Homo sapiens: one gene and its partner. The protein of the gene in region 1 interacts with the protein of each later gene in a pairwise test. Each region holds a gene or a part of one and is shown on either strand. Other genes may lie near its edges.

The links.
Region 2: the proteins of ERGIC3 (region 1) and CXorf66 interact in binary tests that used the Homo sapiens proteins (3 or more experiments, as listed by UniProt).

What each region holds. Positions count from the first base shown.
Region 1 is NC_000020.11:35,554,992-35,558,172, forward strand, and holds the end of ERGIC3 (endoplasmic reticulum-Golgi intermediate compartment protein 3), read left to right. Parts: intron 1-52; coding exon 53-84; intron 85-1,041; coding exon 1,042-1,138; intron 1,139-1,215; coding exon 1,216-1,280; intron 1,281-1,981; coding exon 1,982-2,118; intron 2,119-2,202; coding exon 2,203-2,258; intron 2,259-2,433; coding exon 2,434-2,513; 3' UTR 2,514-2,643; downstream 2,644-3,181. UniProt on the Homo sapiens protein: Possible role in transport between endoplasmic reticulum and Golgi. Positively regulates trafficking of the secretory proteins SERPINA1/alpha1-antitrypsin and HP/haptoglobin.
Region 2 is NC_000023.11:139,963,321-139,967,072, reverse strand, and holds the start of CXorf66 (uncharacterized protein CXorf66 precursor), read left to right. Parts: upstream 1-1,551; 5' UTR 1,552-1,576; coding exon 1,577-1,664; intron 1,665-3,752.

The sequences.
Region 1 (3,181 bases):
TGCTGCTCCTACTAATGACGCCTTCTCCCTTGCCTTCTCCCTTCTCTCCTAGTCCATGACTTGCAGAGCTTTGGCCTTGACAACGTACGTACCAGATGGAAACCATGGAGGGCAGGTGGGGGTGGGAGGCTTGGTTGCTGCCTTCATTTCCTTGTAGGAACATCCTGGGATGGGGTAGTGCATATGGAAAAATACACCACGTTCTGAATGGGGATCCAGCCTGAGGGTTAAGCGAGAGTGACTTTTGAACTGAACTCTGAGCAGGCTAGGGGCAAGATTGGGGTTGGATAAGAGCATCCTAGACAGACAGAGCCTCAGCGCAAGGTCAGGCGGGAGCATGGCCCTTCTAAGGAACTGCGGGGCAGGTGTGGATGGGTGAGGCTGGAGAAGTCGGCAGGGACCAGACCACACCGGACTCAGAGGCCACGCTGAGGAATCACATCTTTCTCATGAGAACAGTGGAAAGCTGTTGGCCTTCTTTAAGCAGGATCACGACATAATCAGATTTGCATTTTAGGAAAGATCCTTCTAGTGTCTGAGGCTGATACACAAGGGAGCAGGAAGGGAGTGTATCTGGGGGTTCACAGCCTCCAGCCTAGGCCTCCAGGCAAAGCCAGCACCTGCTACTCTGTGTGCCTAACGTACAAGTGAAGCTGGTATTTTAAGAAATCTGGAACCTGGCCAGGCATGGTGGCTCATGCTTGTAATCCCAGCTACTCAGGAGGCTGAGGCAAGAGAATCGCTTGAATAAGGCGAGGCTGCAGTGAGCCAAGATCATGCCACTGCTCTCCAGCCTGGGCAACAGAGTGAGACCTTGTCTCAAAAAAAAAAAAAAAAAAGAAAAATCTGGAACCCCAGGAGTTTGCAGGCTGTGGAAGGAGGAGTTTCTAGGCAGGGAATGGGGGATTCTTATCTCGGGGAGGTTGTCCCCTTAGGACCATAGCCTCCCCTTCCTCCCACATCTCCGCAGACGGACCCAGGTGTCCCTGTCTGCTACTGTCATCAGAGCTTTGGATGAGCTCTGGATGGTGTTGTTTACAGATCAACATGACCCACTACATCCAGCACCTGTCATTTGGGGAGGACTATCCAGGCATTGTGAACCCCCTGGACCACACCAATGTCACTGCGCCCCAAGGTACCAGCCCGGGAGGCAGCCCCCAGCCGCAGAAGGCCGGCCGGGCACCCATACCCAGTGCTTTGTTTTCCCCTCAGCCTCCATGATGTTCCAGTACTTTGTGAAGGTGGTGCCCACTGTGTACATGAAGGTGGACGGAGAGGTGAGTCAGGGAGCTCCCTACCAGAGTCTCCTGCGCGGTGCCAAGCACTGGAGTTCCTGCATTTCGTTCCGTCAGCCTGGGGAGTGAAAGCTGCCTCGTCCTCACATGGCGAATAAAAGACTGAGGCACAGAGAGGGTGGGGGATTTGCCCTCCCAGGCAGAGTGCAGGCCTGGGGCTGTTAGATTTAAAGCGCCTGCTCTTTCTGCTGCCCTCACCGCTTCTATCCGTTCCTCCGGTGCCCACCGTCTGCCTGCCTCACTGTTCTCTGTGGTCTGCCTGGGCTGGGGGTTAGGCAAGGCAAGTCTCTGTGTACCCGCTCCCAAGGCTGCCCTGGCCTGTGGAGCAGCATCTCAGCAGAGTGGCAGGATGCGAGGGGCTGAGGGCAGAGGAAGTCAGGTCAGCCTTGGTGCGTCTTTGGAGAGCTGCTTCTCAGCCTGGACCCCCGTGAGAACACCCACCAAATGCTGCCAGGATAGGTAAACTGTAAAGACTTGGCACCTGGAGGGGAAGGCTGAGGCCAAGACTAGGAGAGGGGGTCTGGCGGGCCAGGCCTTGCAGTGCAGGCCACTAGCACGGTGCTGTGTTCTCTCCTTACACGGCCAAGGCTCAACAGGAAAGGGGAAGGAGCAGGGGTGGGGCTGATGGTGGCTGGAGCCAGGTCCTAGCCCTAGCCCTGGCCCAGGCTCCCCTCCCACCCCAGGTACTGAGGACAAATCAGTTCTCTGTGACCAGACATGAGAAGGTTGCCAATGGGCTGTTGGGCGACCAAGGCCTTCCCGGAGTCTTCGTCCTCTATGAGCTCTCGCCCATGATGGTGAAGCTGACGGAGAAGCACAGGTGAGGATGGGGGCAAAGCGGCCTCTGGGGGCCTGGGCCTGAGGGAGGAGGATGCCTGCTGAGCCCACCCTCTCCTTCTACCAGGTCCTTCACCCACTTCCTGACAGGTGTGTGCGCCATCATTGGGGGCATGTTCACAGGTAAGAGGCCCAGGGCGTCTGTGAGCTGTGGGGTGGGGAGGGTAAAGCCTGGGTGCCCCAGGTTTGGTTGGGGGTGAAGGGGCAGATGCTGGCCTGGCCAGTTAAGTGACAAGGCTCTCAGCGTCAAAAGCCAAGGCCCCCACTGGGCCAGTGCCAGCCCTTGTCTCTCTCCCAGTGGCTGGACTCATCGATTCGCTCATCTACCACTCAGCACGAGCCATCCAGAAGAAAATTGATCTAGGGAAGACAACGTAGTCACCCTCGGTGCTTCCTCTGTCTCCTCTTTCTCCCTGGCCTGTGGTTGTCCCCCAGCCTCTGCCACCCTCCACCTCCTCGGTCAGCCCCAGCCCCAGGTTGATAAATCTATTGATTGATTGTGATAGTACTCACTGGTCTCCGTGTGATCCTTGCCATGGCCAGAGCCTCATCCTGGCCACTCATTGAAGGCAATTGTGACTGACAGATCGGGGCCCAGAGCCCTCGGGAGCCCCACATGGGCATCCCCTAGTTAACCGGGGTTTATTCAAACCAGGTTCATGTCCAGCCCACAGCCCTGTCCTGGGTCCCTCCTCCACTGTGGTCCTCAGGCCTCTCGGGTTCAGCCCCAGGGCTCAGATGGACCTTTTCAGCGTGAGCTTCCTGGAGCCACCATGGCCCCCAGGCTCATGAGTGATCAACCCCAGGCCACTAATTCAGGGCCCTGAGTGCATATTGGGGCTTGCCACTTCTTCATTGATGGGTAAAGCTGGGGCCGCTCTCCGCCACCCTGGGCTCAATACACCTGATCCTGTCACACTCACTGATCCCACTCTGTGCCAAACCCCACGCTGGCTCTCACTGCAGAGAGGAATCCCTCCAGGTCCTCTGCAGTCTAGATGGAAGCAAAACTGAACACTGAGGTGCGAAAGTAGCAGTCAGTGGCC
Region 2 (3,752 bases), on another chromosome or scaffold:
GCTCATGCAAATGCAGAATCAGATCCTGTCTTTATTTAAATGTTCAATATTTTGTTGGTCATAGATTTTTGGCATTAATTTTGGTTTTTAAATATCACGTTAAAATCTTATTTGATTACTGAATTTTGCAACACCCCTTAAATTTTGTGCTACAGGCAAATATCTCACTGGGTTTTACTCTAGTCCTGGCAACAATCAAAACAATAACAACAACAAATATGAAGCAAGAAATGGGGTTTTATAGTGTACTTATTATATACAATTTTTATCAAAATAATACCTAGAATTTCTGAGTGAAATCTATTATTACTAACATGCTAGTCATGTAAACTTGCAAATGAAATAAAAATCATATAAATCTATGTTAAAGCCAAAGAAAGTAAAGTGTTTTTGTAACCATTATGAATATGAAGTTAATGTTCAAATTAATTTGGAAGCTGTTTCTGAAATACTGGCTTTAAGATATTTGTCTACCATGTATCCAACACTAGGGAAAAAAAAAAACCTGATTTCTTTTTTTAAAAAAGGTGACAGATACATTCTTTCACTTTATAAGCCCTATTCAAATTTTCAAAAGCAGCTTATTCAAAAGCAATAGAATAACATTTTCTGATTTTTATACAGTTAAAAAGTATGAGCAGGATTATTTAGACCTTCAGGGTAAAACTGAGTTGTATTTTTTTTTTTTTGGTTTTTTATTTTTTTTAAGATGGAGTCTTGCTCTGTCACCCAGGCTGCAGTGCAGTGGCGCCATCTAGGCTCACTGCAACCTCTGCCTCCTGGGTTCAAGTGATTGTCTTGTGTTAGCCTCCTGAGTAGCTGGGATTACAGGTGCCTGCCACTACGCCCGGCTAATTTTTGTATTTTTTTTTTTATGGTAGAGAGGGGGTTTCACAATATTGGCCAGGCTGGGGGTTTTCCAATTAATGTTTAATTTTATTATATTCCAATGGCCCCAAATGCATAATTTCAAACACTGTCACCTTTATAGGACATGTTCTTTCATTTCTTTTTTACTCTTTATTTTATTTTTTTTGAGACAGAGTCTTGCTCTGTCGCCCAGGCTGGAGTGCAGTGGCGCAATCTCGGCTCACTGCAACCTCCACCTCCCAGGTTTAAGTGATTCTCCTGCCTCAGCCTCCCAAGTGGCTGGGATTACAGGTGCCCACCACCATGCCCAGCTATTTTTGCATTTTAATAGAGACAGGGTTTTACCGTGTTGGCCAGGCTGGTCTTGAACTCCTGACCTCAAGTGATCCGCCCACCTCCGCCTCCGAAAGTGCTGGGATTACAGCTGTGAGCCACCGTGCCTTGAACCCGGGAGGTGGAGGTTGCAGAGAGCCAAGATGATGCCATTGCACTCCAGCCTGAGCCAAACTCCGTCTCAAAAAAAAAAAAAAAAAAAAAAGTCATTTGGTAAAATTTGTATACAGAAGCTTATGCTTCCCTATGGTGAGATTATGTTGTCAGAGTATGACACACAATGGTAATGATGTCATAAATGCCTAGAACACTCTGAACTGTATAAATTCAGTAGTTACCTTAGTAGACAAATCATTTGAACCAAGTTGCGGACATGAATCTTGTTATTTGTGTCCTACTTTTGTCCATTTGGAAAAATAATTGCATGACTACAAACCAAACCAATGGATCTTCTACTACAGGTAGGTGCCTAACCTTAAAACTTGTAAATTATGATCTGTTACAGTATACATTAAAGTATTTAATTAGAAACGCCAGCTGTATTTAAGAAATCTGCTGTTACTTTTAGCAGTGTTAACATTAGTAGGTCTTCAAGAATTTCTAATACAACAGCTGATATTAAAAAACTTAAGCAAAATATAAGCATCAAGATGACAGACTTATGGTCCTCCTTTACCACCCTTCCCCACTCAATATACCAACCTGTCCCCACCAAACTAGCTAATACTATATAAATGAATCTGGCAAGGGACTTAACATACAGTAGGGGTTTATTTTTGTTTTTTGTTTTTTTTACTTCAAGTTCTGGGATACATGTGCAGAACGTGCAGGTTTGTTACATAGGTATACATGTGCCATGGTGGTTTGCTGCACCTGTCAACCCATTATCTAGGTTTTAAGCCCCACATGCATTAGGTATTTGTCCTAATCCTCTCCCTCCCCTTGCCCCCAACCCCCACAACAGGCCCCAGTGTGTGATGTTCCTCTCCCTGTGTCCATGTGTTCTCATTGTTCAACTCCCACTTATGAGTGAGAAAATGAAGTGTTTGGTTTTCTGTTCCTCTGTTAGTTTGCTGAGAATGATGGTTTCCAGCTTTACCCATGTCCCTGCACAGGACATGAACTCATTCTTTTTTATGGCTGCATAGTATTCCATGGTGTATATGTGCCACATTTTCTTAAACCAGTCTATCATTGATGGGCATTTGGGTTGGTTCCAGGTCTTTGCTATTGTAAATAGTGCTGCAATAAACATACGTGTGTATGCGTCTTTACAGTAGAATGATTTATAATCCTTTGGGTATATATCCAGTAATGGGATTGCTGGGTCAAATGGTATTTCTGGTTCTAGATCCTTGAGGGATTGCCACACTGTCTTCCACAGTGGTTGAACTAATTTACACTCCAACCAACAGTGTAAAAGCGTTCCTATTTCTCCTCCCCTCATCAGCATCTGTTGTTTCCAGACTTTTTAATGATCACCATTTTAACTGGCATGAGATGGTATCTCATTGTGGTTTTGATTTGCATTTCTCTAATGACCAGTGATGATGAGCTTTTTTTCATATGTTTGTTGACCACATAAATGTCTTCTTTTGAGAAGTGTCTGTTCGTATCCTTCGCCAACTTTTTGATGGGGGTGTTTGTTTTTTCTTGTAAATTTGTTTAAGTTCCTTATAGATTCTGGATATTAGCCCTTTCTCAGATGGATAGATTGTAAAAATTTTCTCCCATTCTGTAGGTTGCGTGTTTACTCTGATGATAGTTTCTTTTGCTGTGCAGAAGCTCTTTAGTTTAATTAGATTCCATTTGTCAATTTTGGCTTTTGTTGCCATTGCTTTTGGTGTTTTAGTCATGAAGCCTTTGCCCATGCCTATGTCCTGAATGGTATTGCCTAGGTTTTCTTCTAGGGTTTTTATGGTTTTAGGTTTTACATTGAAGTCTTTAATCCATCTTGAGTTAATTTTTGAATAAGGTGTAAAAAAGGGATCCAGTTTCTGTTTTCTGCACATGGCTAGCCAGTTTTGTCAGCACCGTTTATTAAATAGGGAATCCTTTCCCCATTACTTGTTTTTGTCAGGTTTGTCAAAGATCAGATGGCTTTAAATGTGTGGTGTCATTTCTGAGGCCTCTGTTTTGTTCCTTTGGTCTATGTATCTGTTTTGGTACCAGCACCATACTGTTTTGGTTACTGTAGCCTTGTAGTATAGTTTGAAGTAAGGTAGAGTGATGCCTCCAGCTTTGTTCTTTTTGCTTAGGATTGTCTTTGCTATACAGACTCTTTTTTGGTTCCATATGAGATTTAAAGTAGTTTTTTCTAATTCTGTGAAGAAAGTCAGTGGTAGCTTGATGGGAATAGCATTGAATCTATAAATTACTTCAGGCAGTATGGCCATTTTCACGATATTGATTCTTCCTATCCATGAGCATGGAATGTTTTTCCATTTGTTTGTGACCTCTCTTATTTCCTTGAGCAGTGGTTTGTAGTTCTCCTTGAAGAGTTCCTTCACATCTCTTGTAAGTTGTATTCCTAGGTATTTTATTCTCTT